3 linked regions of the Homo sapiens genome follow. The protein of the gene in region 2 purifies or fractionates together with the protein of the main gene of each other region. This does not show direct contact. Each region holds a gene or a part of one and is shown on either strand. Other genes may lie near its edges.

Evidence for each region.
Region 1: the proteins of TLDC2 (region 2) and ADAT3 purify together in Homo sapiens (affinity purification with mass spectrometry; one large-scale study listed by BioGRID and IntAct). This does not show direct contact.
Region 3: the proteins of TLDC2 (region 2) and ATP6V1D purify together in Homo sapiens (affinity purification with mass spectrometry; 2 studies listed by BioGRID and IntAct, with this or other methods). This does not show direct contact.

Annotation. Positions count from the first base shown.
Region 1 is NC_000019.10:1,908,261-1,911,188, forward strand, and holds part of ADAT3 (probable inactive tRNA-specific adenosine deaminase-like protein 3), read left to right. Parts: intron 1-2,928.
Region 2 is NC_000020.11:36,889,496-36,893,149, reverse strand, and holds part of TLDC2 (TLD domain-containing protein 2), read right to left. Parts: intron 3,378-3,654; exon of another isoform or gene 289-3,377; 3' UTR 219-288; coding exon of another isoform or gene 84-218; 3' UTR 1-83. Other genes in the region: deoxynucleoside triphosphate triphosphohydrolase SAMHD1, read left to right, coding at 84-218.
Region 3 is NC_000014.9:67,349,702-67,353,355, reverse strand, and holds part of ATP6V1D (V-type proton ATPase subunit D), read left to right. Parts: intron 1-315; coding exon 316-433; intron 434-2,665; coding exon 2,666-2,745; intron 2,746-3,654. UniProt on the Homo sapiens protein: Subunit of the V1 complex of vacuolar(H+)-ATPase (V-ATPase), a multisubunit enzyme composed of a peripheral complex (V1) that hydrolyzes ATP and a membrane integral complex (V0) that translocates protons.

The sequences.
Region 1 (2,928 bases), on a different chromosome or scaffold from region 2:
CCCACTGCATCTCCGGTTCTGTGCTTTGTTGAACGCGTGAGCTTCGGGCAGCGCTGGGGCCGCTTCAGCGTGACCTCCAAGGCCACTGGCCTGGAGTTCCACTGGCTGCTGGTCCCCCATCTGTGGGGCGCCCCGGCGGCTGAGGCGTGGACCAGGCAGTGCATGTCGAGGAGTAGCACCCACAGCTGCGCGGCTGCGAAATGATCCAGAGACACATCCCTGTCTGCGGGAGGAGCCGTCCATACCAGCGGGGATGTGTAGTCCAGGCTGGCAGTTCAGGATCACCCGGCTGGAGTCATTTTAAGATCATCTGCGGCTTAGCCCCAGCACCATCTGAGGCAGTACTGTCTGCTAGAAATAACTGTGAGCACACAGGTAGTAAGGTTTTTAGGATTTTATTATTATTTATTTATTTGAAAAAAGGAACAGGGTCTCTCTATCTTGCCCACGTTGGTCTCAAACTCCTGTGCTTAAGTGATCCTCTCGCCTTGGTCTCCTGAGTAGCTGGGACTACATGTGCACACCACCGTGCCCAACTAATTTATACTTTTAAGCAATGTGGGCTGGGCACGGTGGCTCACACCTGTAATCCCAGCACTTTGGGAGGCTGAGGCAGGTGGATCACCTGAGGTCAGGAGTTCCAAGACCAGCCTGGCCAACATGGTGGAACCCCGTCTCTACTGAAAATACAAAAATTAGCCGGGCGTGGTGGCATGTGCCTGTATTCCCAGCTACTAGGGGGGCTGAGGCAGGAGAATCGCTTGAACCTGGGAAGTGGAGGTTGCAGTGAGCTGAGATCATGCCACTGCACTCCAGCCTGGGCAACAGAGTGAGACTCTGTCTGAAAAAAAAAAAAATGTGGGCTGGGCATGGTGGCTTACGCCTGTAATCCAACCTCAGGCCTGCGGTGCGAGTCTGTGGGGGCAGATGCAGGTGGGGGAAGGCTGGCCAGCTGAGACTGTGGTTTGGGGGTGTTCAGGTGGGGTGGATGCCAGAGATGTGGGAGCCAGAGGCGCTGTCCCCCAGGGCCCTGTGAGCAGTCCCTGCAGGCTGGCTGTCCCCACGCCTGCCTCTCTGCTGTGCTGTCTGCCCGCCTAGGGCAGGCTCCCTTCTAATGGGCGGATCCCGAGAGCTGGGGGCCCCACCAGCCCTTCCTCTCCAGTGGAGTGGCCCTACTGCCTCATGTCCACCTGTGCCAGCAGCAGGGATGGTAATGGCTCTACTATCTCCTGTCCTCACCTGTGCCAGCAGCAGGGATGGTAACGGCTTTACTGCCTCCCGTCCTCACCTGTGCCAGTGGCTGGGATGTCTTCACCTGTGCCAGCAGCAGGGATGTCCTCACCTGTGCCAGCGGCAGGGATGGTAACAGTGCTGGTGATGTCAGGCCGGGAGGTTCTCACCCGAGAGCCGCCTTGGCACACTGCCCGGCAGTCAGGGATGTTAGCAGGAGCCCCGGGAGTGATCCCAGCTCTTCCCGCAGCCCCACTCCAGCCAGGGCCTCCTCTGTGACTGAGTAAGCAGGGACACCCCAGTGGCTGCCTGCTCCACCCGACAGCCAGGGCCCACCACAGCTGCAGGAATGTGGTCAAGGGATGGGAAGTCGGGCCCACCAGGGGAGGGGCTGCGCTCCGGGGCTTACGTTTCGTGGCTTGTCTTCTGAGGTCTCTCTTTTCCTAGCCCTTGGCCGACTAGGGGGCGAGTGTTTACAGAAACCACTGGAGGTGGGTGTTCCGTGTCAGTGCCAGGCTGTGTGCTGTTCTGGGAGGGGGCCCCGTGTCCCCCACACTTGGCATGCTTGCTTTCTGTCACTGCATAGCAGACTCCGTGCATCTGTGGGCTTAATACAACACCCGCCAGCTCCCGGTTCTGTGGGTCGGGGCCTGAATGTGACATGGCTGGCTCCTCTCTGCGGGGTCTCACCGGGCTGGAACCCAGGTGTCAGCCAGGGCTGTGTTGTCATCTGGAGGCTCAACGGGGGTGGCATCTGCTTGCAACTCACGCAGGCGTTGGCGGAATTCAGCAGCTTGCGGCCGGGGGACCAAGGGTCCTGCTCAGTTCCTGGCCACATGGCCCTTCTGTCTGGAAGCCAGGCGCCGCCTGTCCCCGCTTCTGCTTCCAGGCTCTGGCTTCTGGAGATGCAGAGATCACATCAGTGGTTGCCTGGGTTGCTGTGTGTGTTGTAGGGTGGTGAGACAAGTTTTCTCTTAGGGGTGATGGAATGTTCTGGAATTTTATAGTGGTGATGGTTGCACAACTCCAAGTGTCCTAAGAGCCACTGAATAGGACACTTGATAGTTTTTGGTTTTTGAGGTGTCTTTTTTTTTTTTTTTTTTTTGAGACAGAGTCTCGCTCTGTCACCAGGCTGGAGTGCAGTGGCACGATCTCGGCTCACTGCAACCTCTGCCTCCCAGGTTCAAGCAATTCTCTTGCCTCAGCTTCCTGAGTAGCTGGGATTACAGGTGCGTGGCACCATGCCCAGCTAATTTTTGTATTTTTAGTAGAGATGGGGTTTCACCATGTTGGTCAGGCTGGTCTCGATCTCGTGGCCTCATGATCTGCCCGCCTCAGCCTCCCAAAGTGCTGGGATTACAGGCTTAAGCCACCACGCCTGGCTTTTTTGTTGTTTTTTGACAGTCTCGCGCTGTTACCAGGCTGGAGTGCAGTGGCGCGATCTCGGCTCAATGTAACCTGCGCCTCCCAGGTTCAACCTTCTGGGTTCTCCTGCAAGCCTCAGCCTCCCTAGTAGCTGGGACTACAGGTGCGTGCCACCAGGCCTGGCCAATTCTTTGTATTTTTAGTAGAGACGGGGTTTCACCGTGTTAGCCAGGATGGTCTTGATCTCCTGACCTTGTGATCCGCCTGCCTCGGCCTCCCAAAGTGCTAGGATTACAGGCGTGAGCCACCGTGCCCGGGTTTTCATTTTTTTTT
Region 2 (3,654 bases):
GCGCACTTGAGACTTTCACTCAGAAATAAGATGATGGAAACTGGCTTTTCTCTATTGCCTGTTTTTCTCTCTCTTCCTAATAGGATGGCGATGTTATAGCCCCACTCATAACACCTCAAAAAAAGGAATGGAACGACAGTACTTCAGTCCAAAATCCAACTCGCCTCCGAGAAGCATCCAAAAGCAGAGTCCAGCTTTTTAAAGATGACCCAATGTGAATGTCTGTAGTCAGTTGTTTACAAACTCCCTCTCCTGCACAATTCATTTAGAGGCTTCAATCATAGAATTCTGCAAATTAATGACAACTCATGCTTTAATTTTGTATTTTGAATGTACACGCATGCTGAAGCTAAGTAACTTTTAATCAAAGAAATAAGATGGTATTAGGCAAATCTTACTATACTATGAAAAGCATTACCTTGCCTATTTTTAATATTATTAAAGCCTTTCTCCTTCAGTAGTCTATTTTCTTAGAATAACAACTCTTTTATCTATTCTGAACTCTATTTTTTTTCTTTTTTAAGAGACAAGGTTTTGCTCTGTTGCCCAGCTTGGACTCGAACTTTCCTGGGCTCAAGCGACCCTCCTGCCTCAGCCCCCCAAGTAGCTGGGACTAAAGTCATGTGCCACCACACCCAGCTTACTCTGAACTTTTATGACAGATGATTGTTTTTTGTTTTTAATGTAGAAATGAGACAAGGGTACAAATTGGAACTAGAAATTGACATTGTCATTGACAAACATGGCTAAAAACAAAACATCAAATCCTGCCCCCGTGAAGAGTTCCCTGTCACCTCAAGTTTGAGGATAGTCCTCTAAGAGTGACCTAAGCATAAGTGAAAGACACCTCCCCTCACCCTTCTAGCCCCCTACAAGGTGCCAGGTTGGGGTAAAGAGTTGGAGATGATGGCCAGGAGTGGCCTCCAACACGCTGGTGAGAGGCCTGATTAGGTTTTGGGGAAGATCTGAGAGCTCTGGCCTCTTCGTGAGTGGAACATAAAGCCGCCTCTTGTTGGGAGATCCTACCCCAGTGACAGAGGAATCCCCCAAACTAGGCTGTGCCCTGGCTCCGTGGCGGCTCCAGACCCGGGTAGTGCCTTTGTCCCCTGAATACTCACTCCCCCGGTCCAGAGGGCCTTCCCACTGCCCAGCCTGGAGAAGGCCTCCCCTGACCTGCTCTCTCAGTATCCTGGAGAGCTGGCCAGAGGCCATCACAGGCATCATCCTCAGAGCTCCTCAGACCTGGGACTTTGTTTTTGCTGGTTCAGTGCATTTTGTGTATTTAAGAGCAAACACTAGCCAGGCGTGGCGGCGTGTGCCTGTAGTCCCAGCTACTTGGGAGGCTGAGGCAGGAGGATTGCTCGAACCTGGGAGGCGGAGGTTGCAGTGAGCCTAGATCACGCCATTGCACTCCAGCCTGGGTGACAGAGTGAGACTCCATCTCCAAAAAAAAAAGCACAAACACTGCACTGCCTGTGCTGAAATTAGTGACCACCCAGTGGGCTCCAGGCTCCGCTAGGTAACTTCGTTTTCCCAGCAGTGGAGTGGGCACCACCTTGGTGGGGCAGTGCCCCTGTGCCCAGGGCACACCTCATTCCCAGTTCTATAGCAATTCACCAAGAACAAAGTCTGCAGTTAGAGCCAAAGCTGGTGGTGGCCAGAGGGTGCTGAAGATACAGGCCAGTGGGGATGGGAGCCATGAGCCCCGAATGTCTTCTGCTCTGATGCTCCCCGGACTAAGCCTCCCTGGCACACTGGGAGTGAGGGGCAGCCTGAGCAAGTAGGGGAACTCAGACCACAGGCCAGCAGATTTCCCAGCAGTCCATCACTGGCCACCGTGTAGCCAGATTCTGTTCCGTCCACACTGGGGTGAAGAGTACTTGGAATGTCTGCCATCCTGTATGATCACCCCACCCCCTGTCCATCCATCAGTAGATAATAAGGGTTGGTTACAATTCATAAGAGAATAGTTAAAACACTTCTCCTCTCATGCCTACCATGGTGCTGTATCAAGGGGATTTGTTCACATATGGGCTCAGCAACGCACAAGTGAGGTCAGCCATGGCACTAGGTCATTCCCATTTTAGCCAAGGTGCCTCTATAGGGGTCAGACATCATGTGCCCAGACCTAAGGTCAGGAATGTCATATTTTTCTGTTAAAATCATTTTATTTCTGTGTATCTTACCTTTAAATCATTGTGGTTTACTCTGAGATTCTGTAGTCCTAATATTGTATCATTGTGCTGTCTGCAAAACAACTTGAATCTATTTTGTTTGCATCTTTTGTTACATGTAACGCAGCTGTACTTTATGTTCTTTGCAACTGTTTCCATTATGAGAACGCTGTGCTATTTACAAGGTTACATTTTTCTTGGCCAGGCGAGGTGGTCATGCCTGTAATCCCAGCACTTTGGGAGGCCAAGGTGGGCGGATCACTTGAGGTAAAGAGTTGAGACCAGCCTGGCTAGCATGGCGAAACCCAGTCTCTACTAAAAATACAAAAATTAGCCGGGTGAAATTAGCCGGGCGTGGTGGTGTGTGCTTGTAATCCCAGCTACTCGGGAGGCTGAGGCAGGAGAATCGCTTGAATCCGGGAGGCAGAGGTTGCAGTGAGCCAAGATCAGGCCACTGCACTCCAGCCTCGGGGTCAAGAGCGAAACTCTGTCTCAAACAAAAAGAAAGAAAGGAAGGAAGGAAGGAGGGAAGGAAGGAAGGAAAGAGAGAAAGAAAAGAAAGAAAGAAAGAAAGAAAGAGAAAGAAATATCTTTGCTATTTGTATAAAAATGGAAATTTTAACAGCTTAGCCTCTAGAGAGTTACTGAACGTGGTTACCTTGGGAATGTAAATAGAACTGCAAATTAAAATGACTGGCCACTTCAACTGGGTAAGGGAAACAGCTGCAATAAAGCTTCGTGAATATATATCTCCATCTTGAAAGTTGTGTTCCACAAAGGTTTCGACCTCTTTGTCCAAAAATGCATATTACTCATTTACTCCTTTCATACCTTCATTGTGAAATTAAATAACAGACTCACAAGCACCTGGCACTGGTGGCAGACAAAAAGGCCTCAACATTCTGCAGCAGGCCAGAGGAGGAACGACGCTGCTACAGTATTTATTAGTTCCAGTGCTCAAGCCCAGGTTTCTAAGGTTTGACAATATTCTGTAAGTTAAAATCATTTCCACACATACAGAGTAGAATCCTGTTTTTGTAAGTATACACACACACACACACACACATTCATGGAACATTGTCTGGAAGGATATACATGAAAATGTTAAGAGTTGGGGGGGGTTGAATTTTAGGCAATTTTAATTTTTTTAACGTCTTCTGGTTTTTCTACAATAAACATGAATCAGTTGTAGAACCTCTAAAATGATAATGTTCATGAGGTTGGTTTTCCTCGTTCAGTAGCTGGCGAGGAACAGCATAGTGAAAAATCTTCCCTTTGCCAGGAGGCAGGCACTAGCGGGGAAGAGATGTGGATTTTTCTGAGTTTTCTAAGACCCTGTTAGCTTAGGGTCTCTGTGCTGCTTGAGTAAGGTGTAAGCGTCTTTTAATCCTTCAAAGTCACCTCTGCAAAAGAGCAGTGCCTGCCCCCACCTGTATCTTGGGTCCCCAGGCCACAAGGAGGCTGGCCAGCAGCCTCGGCC
Region 3 (3,654 bases), on a different chromosome or scaffold from region 2:
ACTCCTGCAATAAGGAACCCAGTCTTACCATAATGACGTTAATCCATTCATGGAGGGCAGATCCCAGATGACCCAGTCATCTCTTGATGGTCCCACCTCCCAACATTGTTGCATTGGAGATTGTTTCCAACACATGAAGATTAGGGACATATTCAAACCATAGCATCAGTTAAACCTGTCAGCTACAAATTCTCTATATAGTCTCACTTTCATCACATCAAAGGATAAAGGATAATTTTAACACTGGTGGGGAGGGTTTTTTTTGTCTTTTAAACAATGAGAATAGATGTCTTAACTTTGTTTATGTTTATATAGGGCACAGACCATCATGAAGGCTCGTTTAAAGGGAGCACAGACAGGTCGAAACCTCCTGAAGAAAAAATCTGATGCCTTAACTCTTCGATTTCGACAGATCCTAAAGAAGATAATAGAGGTAGAATGAACTTTTCTTAGAATAGTATTTATTTTAGAAAAATCCAGCATGGCCCTTGGCATTTTTTTTTTTGTTGTTGTTATTTTAATTAATTTTTTTCTTTCAAAAGTAAAAATACCATTATAAGTTTAACAAGTGTCAAATATCAAATAGTTCATTTAATAAAATCCAAACTCTTTAATCTTGCCTGCAAAGCTCCACTTGATCTGATTGGCCCCCCGCCTGCCTCTCTTACCTTATTTAGAGCATTCTTCCTAAGGTCCTCCAGGTACTTTTCATTAGCTCTTTCTCCTGCCTGAAATACTCTTTCCCCAGAACTTATAACTGGCTCCTTTAGCTGTTCTAGTCTCTTAAGAGAGGCTGTTCCTGATCACCCAATCTAAAGTGAACACCATGTTTGCTTCTCTCACAATTCCTTATTTTAATTTTATTGTAGCATGTACTACCGCATGGTATGACATTTTATTTCTAGTCTTTTTCTTTTTTTTTTTTTTTTGAGGCAAGGTCTTACTCTGCAGCCTCAAACTGGGCTCCAGTGATCCTCCCACCTCAGCCTCTCGAGTAGCTGTGACTACAGGTGCATGCTACCATTCTCAGCTCATTTTTTTTATTTTTAGTAGAGACGAGGTCTCACTATGTTGCCCAGGCTAGTCTTTTTGACTCCCGGGCTCAAACAGTCTTTCTATCTTGGCCTCCGAAAGTGCTGAGTTTACAGTTTTTGTGTTTTATTTTTAAACCTGTACGTACTTAACAAAAGCATTTTCTATGAGTGCTGTTTTTATTTTTATTTTTTTATTTTTTGTGGAGATGGGGTCTTGCTTTATTACCCAGGGTGGTCTCAACCACCTGGGCTCAAGTGATCATTCCACCTCATCCTTCCAAAGCACTGGGATTACAGGTGTTAGCCACTGTGCCTGGCCCTGTACTACTTTTGATTATTTGTGAAGTTAAGGAGCTTTTCATGCTTATTGACAATTTGATTTTCTTGGTAAATGTCTTCTTTTTTTTTTTGGTAGAGGTTCTATGTGTATTCTGCCTAATGTGTAAAATGTTAAAAATATTTTTTCCACGCCTTTTCTTTTAACTTAAAAAAAAAAGTTAATACTAGGTGTGGTGACTCATGCCTGTAATCCCAACACTTTGGGAGGCCGAGGTGGGAGGATGGTTTGAGCCCAGGAATTTGAGACCAGCCTGGGCAACACAGTGAGACCTTGTCTCTACAAAAAAGAAGAAGAAGAAGAAGAAAATTAGCAGAGTGTGGTGGCATGCACCTGTAGTCCCAGCTACTTGGGAGCCTGAGGCAGGAGGATTGCCTGAGCCTATGAGTTTGAAGCTGCAGTGAGCTATGATTACACCACTGTACTCTAGCCCAGGCAACAAAGTAAGACCTTGTCTCAAAAAATAAAAATAATAAAAAGTTAAAAATGTTTTTCCTTTGGTCAAATCTGTTGGTCTTTTTCTTTATATAGCTTCTGAGTTACATATAAGGCTTAGAAAAGACCTAAAATGATTAAGAAAATATTATGCCACATTTTCTTTTGTTGCTTTACAGTTTTTTTTCTTTAAACCTTTATCTTAATTATGTCTGAATTTTGGGGGCAGTATGATGTGAGGTAGGTAGCTTTATCATTTTGTACTGTATAGACAGTAGAGTGGTCTCTTTACTAAATTTCCATATAGACCTGGGGTTGTTTCTGAATCCTCTAGTCTATTTCATTGACTTAACTGTCCCAAACCAGATATATTAATATTTCCTTATTGTAGCTGTACCTTTTTAATACTTGGGAAGGCAACTCCCTACCCAGCTGACCCAGTTTTTCTTCTCTTTCTGAAACATTATTGAATATTCTCAAACATTAAATATTCCAGATGTACTTTAAAATTAATACACCATTAGGGTTTTGACTGCAACTGCAGTGAATTTAAGAGATTAGTTTGAGTAAATCAGCATGTACCCATTCAGGAATAATATAGGTCCTTCAGTAAAGATTCAGTTTTCTGTTTCTCAATGCATTTATTCTGTTTTAATTATAAAACTCATAGTTTGTAATATTGTTAGTGATCATAACCAAAACTGTTAAAAATTGGAAATTTCTGTTTGTCGTTATCAAACCAATATTTACATGCACAGCCAGCATAAAATACTGATGGTTATTAAAGGAACATAATTATGATGGAATATTTCCTTGTAAAAGGCTTGGTTGAATCTGCTGTTGGTTTATGCTTTTCCAGACTAAAATGTTGATGGGCGAAGTGATGAGAGAAGCTGCCTTTTCACTAGCTGAAGCCAAGTTCACAGCAGGTGACTTCAGGTAAGGGGACTAAACGGGGTGTTTTGAAGCAAAACAAAGTGATTTCAGTCTCATAATTTCATTTAAAAAGCATTTTTTAATTTAGAAATAAGCGTTAAGGACAAATGATATAGTAATAATAAGAAAGAATTCTTTTAACCCCATCACCTTAACTCCACTGTCATCTTCCACATGTAATTCTTACATAGTTGCAGGCGCAGGATACTTAGTATTTTAGAGTCCATTTTCATTTAACGTTGTATCATAAACATTTTTCCTTATTTTCAACATGGCTGTATGATCTTTCTCAAGATGTATTTTTTTTTTCTCCTAATGCTGGGTATTTGGGTTAATTCTCAGTTTTTTGGAATATTAGGGAAAGTGCAGTGAACATTTTTACACATATGTATTTTTGTTTCTACTGAATTATTCCCGTAGGATAAATTTTTGAGAATTGGATTATTTAAAAGGCATGAACTTCATGGCTTTGGTGACATCAGTAAATCCTTTACAAAGCATACAAAATAGCTTGCAAATGTGTTATGCCAATTTACATATGTTATGTAATTCTCCAAATAACACTATGAGATAGGTAAGGCAAGCATTGTTATTCTCAGTTTTAATTAAATGCCTTCCTGAGGTCACTTGGCTAATTAGGGGCAGAGGCAGAAGTTGTTTTCAAGGTTTCTGATTTTATTATTTTCCTAATGACATGATGCCTATTATCTAGGAGCTTTCACTGCTCTTGGGCCTTAATAAGGCCCTTTGAAGTGGTAGGCTTTCATTTTTGCCAGTGCTGGTAAGATCACAGCTTGCATTGAATTTTCTAGCAGAGGGTGGAGATCAATCAATAGTGTATAAGTGGTATGTGAGTGTTTTAGGGTGGTTATGGGGAAGATACTTTCTATAATATTTATTTTTGTTTTGTTT